Regions from separate parts of the Homo sapiens genome. Here region 1 is linked to region 2. The links come from fine-mapping of genetic effects on gene expression. Tissue or cell type: whole blood. Region 2 holds a variant in brackets; the other region holds the start of a gene. All regions are shown on one strand. Distances are between the middles of the regions.

Region 1 (8,475 bases), 300 kb after region 2:
TGTCTCCCTCTTGGTTTTTAAGGCAGAGGATGCCCAAGTGTAGGGGAAGAAGCTGGGGTCCTACCGCACTCACCAGTCTGGGATGTGGGACAGAGTGTGTGACCTCCTGGGACTCCCTTCCTCATCTGTGGAAAAGGAGATGCCCACAGCTAACTCGCCGGGTAGCTGGACTGACTGAGCGAAACAAACGGAGTACGCAGTCAATACAATGTTACATTGATTCCTTCCTTCCTTCCCATAATTTACCCAGCCTGCAACTGTGGCATAAGTTTTTTGTTCATACTGGATTTACTAAATGTAAGGCATACCCTATTTTATGTAACAGAACGTTATAATCAAGCAACAACTATATCTTATGTCCTTACTATGAAGAGGGCCGATTTACAGGATGTTGAAGAACAGCCTCGCTCTGCTGGGAGTCAGAGAATGTGAAAAGGTGTCAGGCAAAGGCCTTGCTCCTCCAGGAATCTGCCCTCTGGGTGGGGAGACAAACGGACAGACGATTACCAATACCAGGTAGGAGCAGGGGGCTCAGCCAGCCCATACAGAGGGAGAGCAGAAGGCGGCCACTCAGAGAATGTGCCCTCCATACCCATGCAGGTGCCCTTCACACTGGACGAGTCACACTCCCACTCACATTCCATGCTGCTAACCCTCTGAAGCAGGTGAGATTTATCCCCATTTTACAGGTGAGGCCAGTGAGGCTCAGAGTCCCCATTTTACAGGTGAGGGCAGTGAGGCTCAGAGAGGTGAGGCAACTTGTCCGAGGTCATGCAGGGAGTGATGTGAGGACAGGAACCCAGGTCTGCCTGATACTTGGTAGCTGGAACTGGTTCCTCTTCCAGCAGCACCTTGAAGGCTGGGCAATATATGGATGGGAGGAAAAGAGGAGGAAATGCAAAGGGCCAGGGTGAGGACACACAGTGCCAGGGCTGGGTGGCCAGGGGAGGGGGGACAAGATCATGCCAGACACCACGTTGTGACATAAAGTTGGGGTCAGCGTGCAGAGGGCCTTCACCTGCAAGGCATCTTGGAAGGCACTGCCACTGACGGCTGCTGAGACAGGGTCCCCTGTGAGAAGCGTTACCCTCTGTAAGAAGACAGGCACAGCGGCAGGATGGCTGGAAACTGAGGCTGGAGGCCCAACAAGGAAGCTTTCAGGACCGTAACTCAGGGTGAACAGCCAAAGGCCCAAGTAGGGACCACGGCAGTGGGAGAGCAAAGGTCGGAGTGGACACTCGAAGTGCCCAGAAGAACTGAGTGGGCTGAGGCCTAAGGCACCAGAGAGAGGGAAGGAGGGTGCCCCAGGCACCCCGGCTGCATGCCTGGGGGAACCCAGCCGTTCTTTCCACAAGGAGGAGGCAAGAGGCAGTGCCCACTTGGGGTAGGGGGTGGTTGGTTGGGTCTAGGGAGTGGCGGGACACCCAGGCAGCCAGTCTAAGGCTGAGGAGACTACAGAGCAAAGACTCCACCAGGCCTGGGGTGGGGGTGAAAACGGTGAGCCATCACTGGAGAGGGCGAAGGGGATGAACTGAGGAACAGGCAGGACCAAGGGTGGGCTTTCTGAGAACCAAACAGCTGAGACCTTAAAAAGCAACAGCAACGAGCCCAACAGCACTGGACTGAGCGTCCAGGGGCCTGGGACCCAGCTGTGGAGCCTTGGATGAGGCATCCAGCCTCTCTGAGCCTCAGTTTCTGTTGGGTCATGAATGCCTCCTTATAAGGCTGTCTGTAAGGAGCGATCAGATGCTTGCAGGGCTGTAGTAGAGATCAAATGAAGTAATTGTTCTGAGAGGCATCTGGAATGCTGCAGAACCCCATACACACATAAGGGATTAGTACTATGCAGAAGCACCAAGAGATGCATCCTTCCCACACACGCTTGGCGCTGCCCACCCTCGCCAGCCACACAAAGGCCAGCTTCCGCCTCGCTGCTTCTCTTGCCTTCTGAGCAGTCTCTCCCCCAACCCAGGGCCGGTCCCCCTGTCCTCCCTTCCATCTCTGGATGGCTGAGAACCACCTCAGAAGCAGCTGAGCTCCTCTCTCCTGGATGCCCTGACTCCCTGCAGCTGGGACTTTCTCCTAGAGTCTCTGCCTCTCTCCCGGTACTAAAGTTCCCTCTCCATCCTAAGGGAAAACCAAAGTGGAAATCAGACCACGAAGCCGACCCAGGCTCTCGGAAGAATTTTCATTGCTGGGGAAGACAGCAGCCACCGATCAAGATGCCCAGGTAGGGGGATGGGAAAAACACAGAAAACCAAGATCCCCTCTCAACCTCCCCTCCCGAGCATCCACCTCTTCCCCACCCGGAGGGACCAGTGCTGCCTCTGGGTTTCAGGTGGCAGGTCCAGAGGAGGACAGAGGGGTGGAGCTGGTGAGGCAGGCGGGAGGCTGGTGGGCAAGCCCGGGCCACAAGGAATGAACAAAATATGGAAAATTAAACAAACCCAGACACTGTAATGTGTGCATATTAGATTAACTCTCCGAAGGGTCGTGACCTTGAGGAACACATCTGGCCAGTGAGAAAAATAATAAACCTGATTAATGATGAAGCCTGAGCTGCAGCTTCAGCAAATAAAGCCAGCATGATGACGCCCAGTGGAATTCCAGGGGCTGCCATCCCTGGTGGGACCGGAACACAGTGGACCTCGACAAGCCCCTCGCCCCTGACCACGCGAGCACAGACAGTCAGGGAGTCAGGCAGGACCGGATTTGTCTCTCAGATGCCCACTACCAACCCAGGCGGCCTCTCTCCCCGGAGATACCACGCCCGCAGTTTCCCGGTGCTCCTAGAAGTGTCACTACCAACCAGGTGACCCATAGGGAGTGAAAGTGAAGGTAGTTCTTTGTTCCTGGCAGGGCTCAGTCCTCCTGACCAGCCCTCAGACCTCTTGGCCTGGTCTTGACAGCTGCCCACTGCCTGGCAAAAGGGCCCAGCTGTGCTCAGAGCTCCCCTCCTCTTCCCAGACAACCCAGACCCTTGGGAGACATGCCCAGGAGAGCCACTGGAGGGAGGCAGGGAGGTGGCACCGCGTGGCATCACCAGACAACAGCACCAAGAGGAAGATGGCAGCATCAAGTACAGATGCCAAGAGCCACGCAGCCCAAGGTCCAGCCCGGGAGTGGCTCGGCCCGCATTGCCCCACCACTGCCAGGCAGACGGGCCAGAGGCGCCCGGGGCCCAGCCCCCTCGGCCGCCTCCTCCACCACCCCAAGGCCCTCAGCCAACTCTCCCCAGGCTCCAACTCCTCCCCTCACTTTGCTCAGCTCAAGGGAGCCAGGGAAAGAGACACAGGTGCTCTCAGTGCCTTGAACCCCCTGTCCCAGCTGTCGCCTGCACGCCCTCCACCCCAGCCAGGTCGGAGCGCACAGCTCTGCCAGTCCTCACTGAAGAGAATCTAAATCAGCTCCCCTCCCCCTCCGCCCCAGCCCCCTCCCCCATCACGCGCCCATTGCAGGTCTCTAGAGTTTCTCCCTCACTTCCCACTCGGATGAACTAGGGTGGGATGGGTGGGAGCCCCATTCTCCCCGGGAAAGAGGATCATTTCTGATAGGACGCTGGTTCCCCCAAGCAAGGCGGTGTGCAGGGTGGGGGGGTGTGGTGGTGGCCCGAGTCCAGTGCAGGGGCAGGGGGCAGTCGAGGCAGATGGCAGTGAGGAAAGGGGGAGGGGGCTTGGTGGGATGCCAGGCTGAGCCGGGATGGGGGGCTGCAGCCGGGGAACAGAGGCGCTGGGAGAAGCGGAGGGTGACGAGGTGTAGGGGAGACGCGCCAGGCTGGGAAGGGGCTGTCATCCCTGCAGGGGACAGAGGCAGGGCTGGGAGTTGCACGGGGAGGGGGAGGACCAGAGCGGGAGGACCGCGAGCCCGGGGAAGGGATGCGGAGGGAGGGAGACGGACCGGGGTGAAGACTGGAGGAACTACGGGAGCAGAGCGGTGGGGGGTTCGGCGGCGAATCTGGAGACGCAGGGACCGAAGTGCCAGGGACCGGGCTGGCGGGAGGCGGGAGCGGGGAGGAGGGCGCGGGGGCGGGGGCCGGGGCAGGGGTGCGGGGCCGCGGCCCCCGAGGGCAGGAGCGGCGGAGACGTCAGAAGTCGGGGTGCGGGAAGGGCCAGCGCGGAGGGGACTCGGGGGCGCGGGGGCAGCGCAGGGAGCGGGCCGGGGGCGCCGCGGGGGGCCGCTGCCCTTACCTGGTCGGCTCCGCACTCCGGGGGCTGAGCCGGGGGCCGGGCGCTGCCGGGCCGGCCGCGGGGCTGCTGTTGGCCGTTTTTCCTCTTCCGCAGCAGCCGTGGCGGCTCCAGCCCGATCCGCCCGCAGCTGAAGGCAGTCTGTGTCCGGCTGCGAGCGAGCCCGGCGCGGGGAGCGCGGGAGGAGCGCAGCGAGGCGCGGGGCGCCGCCCGGCGGGCAGCTGGGGAACTGCTGCGGCCCCGCGCACGGCCGGCCGGGGGGGCGCCCCTTCGGGGCCGGGCCGGAGCCCCGCGGGCAGCTGCACGCGCCCCCCAGCGCCCCTCGGAGCGTCGCCCGGGAGCCCAGGCGCGGGGGCGGCGGGGGCGGCGGGAACGGCGGGGGCTGCTGCGGGCAGGGCGGGCGCGGGTCCGCGCGGCCGGGGGCAAACTTGCGGCTGCCCGGGGGCCCGGGGCCGAGCGAGAGGCGCCCGGCTGGGGAGCGGCGCCCGGCAGAGGCTAGGGGCGCGCGGCCAAGCGGGCTCTGCGAGGTACGGACCTCAGGTGGGGAACCCGGCGCAGCCCGCACACTCCACCGCCCTGCGCAAAGGGGCAGCCCGCCCCGGCCCCGAGGAGTTATTAGCCCGGCGGCTTCAGCGAGCAAGGGGCGCCCCCTGGTGGCATTCGGGAAACAGCGCGGGGGACGAGCGTGCCCCGTTAGAAGAGACTGCGGCCTCAGTGGTGCGGAAGATGGAGAGGTGGAGGTTTCATGGGACGAGACAAGAGCACCTTGTTCAGGAGACTGAAGAGCAACAGCTTGCATGGAGTCATTCCAGAGCACTGTTGTATACATACCAACATCTTGGGAGGATCTCATGTTACGCATGAAGATCCTGAGGCTAGGAGAGGTGAAGGGACCAGGCCAAGAACACACGGGGAGCAAGTGGCAGGACCCAGGAGGCAACCCCGCTTTCTGACGCGCGGTTCATTTCAGTACACCGTGTGGTTCATCCTAATACAACAGAGTTGCCCTTAGGAGGAGGCTGGGTGAAGAGGGAGTCCTGGGGGAATAGGAGGGAGGGCAAGGGACACGTGACCCCCTCAAACCTATTAGCTCCCTCTTATCCAACCCGCAGAGTCTCTGTCTTGGGCAGACCACCAAACTGATCACACCGGCCCTCTCACCTTCAATGGCCTGTATCCCCACACCCAACCACCAGCACTCCCACAATCTCATTAAGCTCTCTGTGAAGGGTTTGTTCACAGACGTCCTTGGTCAGGTCTCACGCATGAGGCATACTATCGGGACTATAGACTGTTCTGGACGTTGCATTCCCCGGGGAGGGCTGGCTGGCTAGCCTGGGCGCGTACTGGGCCTCCTGCTTCAGGAGTCGTGCCTATCCCTCCCCCAGCTCCACACACTGGCTGGATGAATGCCATATGCGAACAGGGCTCCATTCCTCCAGCCAGACATTATTTAGCACCTACTGTTTGCCAAGACTATACCGCTTACACAAGTGTGATTCCCAATAATCAACTTTGCAAGGTAGGTGTTGAGGTGACACTAGTCCCATTTTACAGAGGATGTTAAACCTGTTAAGGTTTAAGAGCACCTGTAAGCCAGTGACACAAAACTAATTTCTAATTCCAACTCTATTCCCCCACTCTGGAACCCCCTCTCTTGTGCAAAATGGACGGAACAGCAGCATAAGCCTAGCAGAAAGTGTACGGGGCTGGGAGGAGGGAGAGGCATCCCTGTGATCCCAGCAAGCGATTTCACTTCCCTGGACTTCAGTTCCCATAACTCTAAAAGTGAGGGAAGCAGACTAGATGATCTCTCAAGCCGCGCAAACTCTGAAATGCCAAGCATGGATCCCTGGCCCCTTTCACGGGAAGAATGCAAGATCAGCGAGACCAGAGAGGCTTATTAAGTGTTTGGAAAGAAAAATACTATATAAGTGAAATGCTTCATCATATTCTTTTGCCTGGTGATCTCATCCTATTAACCAGGGAAGCGGGGAGGAGCTTTTGGCAGGTCAGAGAGATTGCTGATGGCTCTGGAGATAGTCTTGGCTGTGGCCTCCTGAGGGCCCTGGTTTCTCCCCTTCTTGCAAGAATGGTTCTGACTTTCTTTTCCTTTCTTAAGGCCTCTGCCCCTAGAAGCAGGGAGTCCCTACCAGTCACAGGGTGGACAACAATGTCAGCGAAGTCTGCCGGTACAGAAGTCTGCTGTTAGCCTCAGCCTGGTTGCCCCCACCCACTCTCCTGTCTCCCCTTGCTGCAAGATGTTGAGTTCTTTGGGATACTTACTACTTGCTCTCCACCTTTTTTACTACTGAAAAAATTCAATTCCAGGCAAGCTGACTTCTCAAGCTCAGCTCCAGGGGTGGGAAGGTCAGTCCAGATCTTTTTTGGAAGCCACAGGGGGAGAATGTCAGAGGGCCACGAGGCTGGCCCCGCTGATCTACTCTGAGGCTGCTGCCTTGAATGAAAAAACAGAAGGGTTGGGAAATGGGGCTCCCACCTCTAGAACCTCTCATCTGAAACATCCCTCACAGCCAGCTGCTATGCTGTGCAGGACGGATAGGATTCATTGTGCTTGGGCGCCATGGTGGTCGGAGCGCACAGGAAGGAGTTTGTTCTCTTGGATTTATCTTTAATTTCTTCCATCTATCTGCCTCTGGTATATCCACTAAGAAGAATATTTGATCTTAAATGTACCTGCCATGTCTTTTCCGAAGGTCCCTTTGAAGGTTCATCACACATTCATAATGATCCCTCTGCATAAATGGGGCCAGCTGAGGCACACGGTGAGCAGGTGACTTGTTGTCACCTTGCTGAGTGGCACATATCATATCATGTCACCATGTCTTAGAAACTATTGCAGCGGCCCTCTAGCTCATCTCCCTGCCTTTAAATTGGCTCCCTCCAATATGTCTACAAATGGCTGCCAGAGTGATGTCTCTAAAACAAGCTTCACCACTTTACACCCTTGCTGAAAACCCCTTCATGACCTCATATTGAGTCCAAAACTTTTTTTTTTTTAAGACGGAGTCACTCCTCTGTCACCAGGCTGGAGTGGAGTACAGTGGCGGAATCTCGGCTCACTGCAACCTCTGCCTCCCGGGTTCAAGCGATTCTCCTGCCTCAGCCTCCTGAGTATCTGGGACTACAGGCACCCGCCACCACGCCCGGCTAACCTTTGTATTTTTAGTAGAGATGGGGTTTCACCATGTTGGCCAGGCTGGTCTCCAACTCTTGACCTCGTGATCTGCCCGCCTCGGCCTCCCAAAGTGCTGGGATTACAGGCGTGCACCACCGCACCCAGCCTCGAGTCCAAAACTTCTTAGCACAGCATACAAGTTCCCTGCTTACTTCCCCACCTCACCCATCATCCATTTCTGTCCATCTCACCTTCAGTCAGTACCAAGCAGCACTGAGTTCTCTGCTCATCCCATTTCATACCTCTGTGCCTTTAACACACTGAATTCTGCCCAGAGTCCCCACCCTACCTCCCACATACACACTGATACACAAGTTCCTATTAACCGCTCAGAATTCTGTTTGGGAACCTCTCCTACTAGAAGTTTATCATACCTGGCTATCTAGTCCCTTCCCAACAGAAGTAATTACTCCCTTCTCGGGATCTCTCTTGTGCTTGTTAGAGTTTATGGTCACTTACTTGTTTCACGTCTGCTCTCACTAATAGACTGTGAGCTTGTTCTCCTGGATTTATATTTTAGCTTCTCCCTTCTTTGTATTTGCCTCAGGTATATCCGCAAATCAGATATTTGATCTTAAATTTACCTACCATTTCTTTTCCAAAGGTCCCTTGAAGGTTCATCTCAAGTTCATAATTAGACTATAGGCTTTTTAAAAAATCTCTGGCCGGGCACAGTGGCTCACACCTGTAATCTCAGCACTTTGGGAGGCCGAGGCGGGTGGATCACCTGAGGTCAGAGTTTGAGACCAGCCTGGCCAACATGGAGAAACCCTGTCTCTACTAAAAATACAAACTTATCCGGGCGTGGTGGCATGGGACCTGTAGTCCCAGCTACTCAGGAGGCCGAGGCAGGAGAATCACTTGAACTGGGGAGGCAGAGGTTGCTGAGATCGTGCCATTGCACTCCAGCCTGGGCAACAAGAATGAAACTCCAGCTCAAAAAAAAAAAAAAAAAAATCTATTAACCACACAGTGCTTGGCATAGGAGATTCTTAGTAAATGTGTTGAATGGATAAACCAATAGAGAGAAGGGGTTAATGAGGTCTACAGTTCTGGCAAATCGGATTTGCTCCTGTCATTTGTCCAGATGAG
Region 2 (5,000 bases):
GAGTCCAATACAGCCAGGTGATCATCTGAACGGGGTACAGGCAGCAAGGCAGAACACCAGGGTTCAAATCCCAGCATTGCAATTTACCATATGAACTATAGATCTTGGAGTCTTCTCTTAGCCTATGGCTTGGGCAGGCATCCCACAACATCCCAAAATCTCAGCTGACTGGAGGACTCATCAGTACTAAGTGTCTGGCCAAAGTAGTGATGATCAGGCTTCATCTTTGAAGAGTCTCTTCAAATTCCAAGCTACTTCCATGGGGGTTATCTCATGTGACCTCAGCCAACTTAACTCTTACAGCCCACTAGGTGCTTGAAGTTCATCATCCCCTCAGATCCCTACAACTGCCTTGGGGGAGTGGGGTCTTATCTCCTGATTTTACTGGTAAGGACACAGCACCCCAGAGACGTGAAGTGCCTCCGCTCTGGTCACACACCTAATCAAGGCCAGAGTTGGCATCTGGATTCAAGTCTCCTGACCCGCATCCAGGGTTCATGTTCCTCTCTCACAGCCACTTACTTTGTCTGCACTGCTCCTTGCAGCCAGCCACTCCTACACCCAGCACTTCTCAGCCTCTTACAGTGGAGGTCCCCCCGCCCACCTCGTCTACTGAATCCACTTTCTCCAAGGTCACCATGACCTGTTATCCATTCTCATCCTGTTCTCTTTCTGCAGCACTTGTTCTGATTGCATTGTTCTTTAGAATTTCCTAACACCGTGCAATCTGGATTCTCCTCCAGTTCTCTGGTCAGTCTTTCACTCATTGCTGACTCCTCTTCCTTCTCCCACCCACCAAATTCAGGTTTTGCCCCTGACTCACTGTTCCTGGGCCATTTTACCATTGCCTACAGCCTCCACCCTTGTCTCTGCCCAGATGACCCTGCACTCTCACCTATGTGCTGGGTCACAAAGTCAAGTTCCAACCACCTGCTGGACGTTGCCACAGGGCCTTCCCTCTGGCATCTCACACTCAGTTCTGTAAGAGCTTGGAGTCTGATGCATGGCTGTCTGGGTTTGAGTCTCTGTCACTTACTAGTTTCGAGACCTTGAGCAAATTATCAAACCTCTGGGCCTGTTTTCTCACCTATAAGATACTAATAACACCTCTCTCATAAGGTTGCTGTGAGAATTAAAGTGAATTAATACTTAACATTCAGAATGGTACCTGACATGCTACATGACCCTTTTATTATTATCCCCACCATATCAGATTTGTTATATATTTTTCACAATCTGGTTGGATCTCCACACTTCTATGAGGAAAATTCATTTTTATCTCCACTTTACAGCTGGGGAAGCTGAGGCCTAGAAAGTTTAAGTAACTTGTTTAAGATCACACAGGTAATATAAGGTCAAACTGGGCTTGAACTTGGGGATCGACATGGCACCAAAGCCAGTGCTCTTACCCACTCTACTTTACTCCTCTTATCTCCTCAAGCTCAAAGCCACAGTCATCCTGGCCTCTTTCTTGCCTTCCCTCACTCAAGCTGTTCTCCTGCTTTACAGGTCAAGGGCCAGGTTCCGACCATCTGACCTTCTCACTCTCTGCCAGCCCTTCCTTCCTACGTCTACTGCCATGGTTCCAGGTCAACCCCTCTTTATAACCTGCCCTTCTAAGGGAGTCTCTCTGTCTCCAGGATTCTTCATTTCCAATCCATTCTTTAAACGGTGGGGCAAATTATAGTCCTAAAACGTAGATCGGAGTGTGCCCCCAAGGCAGAGAACCTGTCTTATTTATGTCTGTGTCCTCCATACTTAGAACAAGGCCTGACTCAGAGTTACGTGGCCTATAAACAGTTGCTGAACCACACTGAGGCCCACTCAACACCTTCCATGCAAAACTGGAAATAAACTAAATGTATAATCATAAGGGAATAAGTATATAAAATGTGGGCTGTATGCCCAAATGGAATATTATTTAGGCATTTAAAATACTTATGAACAGTTTATAATAGTATTAAAAATATTTATTTAATAATACTAAGAGACAGAAGCAGGATATAAAATTATATGTATATCTATATGAAGGCTACAACTAAGCAAATACAGAG[AGT/T]ACTTATACACTGAGGAATGATTATGAGAAGATGTTATTAAAGACTACATGTACTGAGTGTTAACTATGGCCCGTTCGAAGCACTCTTACGGGAACTGACATATTTAATTCCCAAAACAAACTGAGGAAATAGGTACTATTACTGTCATTCTCATTTTACAGATACAAAATCAACAGAGAGAAATTAAAGAGCAGAGTCAAGATTCAACAGCTCCACCCATTTCCCCAAAGACCGGCCCCTTAACCACTGCACCGCACAGCCATCCCCAGCAAATGGCAATTAACTGGGATGTTTGTAGATTGCCTTGGCCACTGGAACACTGAGTTATTGTCTTCCCTTTTTTCATTTCACTACTTTCTATAATGAGCATGTATTCCTTTTTATAACATATTATAAAGAATACAATGCTATAATAAAAACATTCTTCTGATGAGCAAGTAAAATTCGAGTGACTCTGGTCTCCTTAAGTCCTGTCTTTGCAGCCCCTTCTCCCACCGTGCCATCTCCCGCTGCATGCCAGCTCACCTAGAACATACTCTGTACATATTTTCCTGCCTGATCCTGTTCCCAAATGGCTATCTCTAGATCAGGGGTTCTTAACCTGTAGCCTGGGGTCTGTGGGTAGAAGTCAGGGGTCTGTGAACACTTGTGGGGGGAATTACATCATTCTTTTCTCTAACCCCTAAGTGAAATGTAGCATTTCTTTCCATTTTGAATGTAGGCAACAAACTACAGTGTGTTAATAGCACCTGTGACTTTGTTTCCCACAGAAATCACCGCAGTTTTCATATGACACTACAGTGCTAAGGATATCTTCAAATACCAGTTATATTCATTATTACTTCAAGATTATGGTAGTAATTAGGCTCGATGCTATTTAATACATTAATGAAGAAGCATATATATTAGTATACCACTATTAAAATATAACTGCATTTCCATATAGCTGGTTTCCATAGTCACCCTATCCATTTTATTGGATTTTTGTTATTTATTTTCTATCCTTTTTTATTAATAAAAAGGTTTTTATTCATTTAAAAACATTTATCTGAGAAGGGATTCATTAGCATCTCCAGACTACCATGGTCTAGGCTTCTCTTGCCCTTCTGCCTAGCAAACTCCCACTCATACTTCAGCATCCAGCTCAGATCTTGCTCCTAGGCCAGAAGGCATCTCTCCCTCCCTATATTCACAGCACACTGTGGCTCTGAGTCAGCCGCCTTTAGGAGACAGCGCAGCTTCCTTGCTCTCTGAATTCCTGGCCAGCTTCTGTCCCAAGCAGCCTGGTGATGTTGGTTCCCAAGAAAGGAAAGTTTCTCCTGAAAATAAATTCTTATAGAAGGCCACAATTCCTTATTCCCAATTCCAAAGTCCAAAAGGCTCTGAAACTTGATGTTTTTCATCAAACTCAGTTGTTGGCAAAATCTGATCTCAACAGACAGATGTAAAGCTATTTACAATGTGTGAGTATTTGAATATAAGCATGCATTTGTTTGAGTATGGGGTTACTGGAGATTCAACTTTACATATGGTACATGCACCACACAACCGTTCTTTTGTTTGTTTGTTTGTTTTGAGACAGTGTCTCACTTTGTAACTCAGGCTGGAGTGCAGTGGAGCAATCATAGCTCACTGCAGACTTGAACCCCTGGGCTCAAGCAATCCTCCTGCCTCAGCCTCCTGAGTAGCTGGGACTACAGGTGCATGCCACCATTCTTGGCTAATTTTTTATTTTTTGTAGAGATGGGGCCCCACTACATCGCCCAGGCTGGTCTTGAACTCTTGGCGTCAAGCAATCCTCCCACTTCAGCCTCCCGAAGTGATGGGATTTACAGGCATGAGCCACCACGCCCAGCCCCTCAACCTTCCCAATGTCTCAATCTGGATTCTACACACATCAGGCCTCGAGGGTTTGTGGGCCTGCGCCTGCCATTCTGAGCTTCTCATACACGTGTGTCAATGTGTCCATCTCCCTCACTGGATCATAAATGGCCTTGAGATCAGGGGTCATGTCTATTCAGCCCTGGCAAAAAGAAATTGCTCATTAAATGTTTGCTCAACTGAACTGAAATGATCCCAAATGAGTCCAGTGGAACTGAATTAGGGTCTTAGCAGTGGCTATGGCCTGGGGATTTCCTGGGATCTGGGAACTGGTCTTTCGTTCCCTATGAAGGGTGCCCTGCTCAGTAGAGATGGAAATCATTTATAAAGGGTCTCAGCTCTGGAACCCCTGCATGCTGATTCTGCAGGCCTCGGCCCTCTGAGCAGTTTGCAGGAGGCACAGGAAGGGAGGGAGATGCGTTTACCTCTTCCTCCCAGGCAGCAGAGGAGTTGGAAGGCTCAGCTGCTGGAATAAAAGGCCATGATGGGGTGTAGTGGCCCCATGGAGGGACTTCTTCATCTCAAAATGTCAGCACTGGCAATGGATTGGAGACCCCTTAGAAGCCCAGGCTGGACAGGGGTGGTGGGGTGAGGGGCGTCGTGGAACTTACTCCTTTCCCCTTTCCTGCATCTTCACAGGGTCCCTCCTCCGGACAGAGAGCAGTTCAGGGAGGGGAGGGTGAGGCTGTGTCGCAGATGGTTTAGAGGAGCTAATGGTAAGTGCCACTGACTGTAGCCCCCCTCCAGGAAGGAGCAGCTTCCTGGATGGACCCAGGGGGCCAGGTCCTCCTGCCTGACAGTGAGGAGCTGCTCAGTGCTCTCTGGGCCCAGATGGCAAACAACCCTGGCCCCACGGGGCTCACAGAGATGTGCACTGGGGAGGGCTGGGAGAACTCAGAGTCCTTCACACGGAAGCACTTCCCGATGCTGCAGCCTGAATGGAGCAGAGGGTGCAGTCTCCCTCTGAGCCTGTTTATACTGCACAGAGTACACGTGAAGCCCTGGCCATCCTAGGGCAAGGCAAACAATTGCCTCATCACTTCCAAAGAACCATCTCCTCTC

What was found. PIP is the estimated chance that this variant, and not a neighbour inherited with it, causes the effect.
Region 1: GRIK4 starts here. The variant in region 2 is fine-mapped to the expression of GRIK4 in whole blood (TOPMed, PIP 0.97).

Annotation. Positions count from the first base shown.
Region 1 is chr11:120,507,600-120,516,074 of GRCh38, reverse strand. It overlaps GRIK4 (glutamate ionotropic receptor kainate type subunit 4), which reads right to left and starts at 4,327. Exons shown (of 21, transcript NM_014619.5): 1 at 4,188-4,327. RefSeq lists silencers at 4,257-4,456, 4,637-4,716.
Region 2 is chr11:120,808,697-120,813,696 of GRCh38, reverse strand. The region is part of intron 4 of GRIK4 (glutamate ionotropic receptor kainate type subunit 4); the gene reads right to left. LOC105369532 (a long non-coding RNA gene) reads left to right here. Exons shown (of 3, transcript NR_133008.1): 3 at 2,219-2,352. Among named protein-coding and RNA genes, the nearest start is that of TBCEL, 210 kb to the left of the region's middle. The variant AGT/T (reference allele first, on the strand shown) is at 2,055.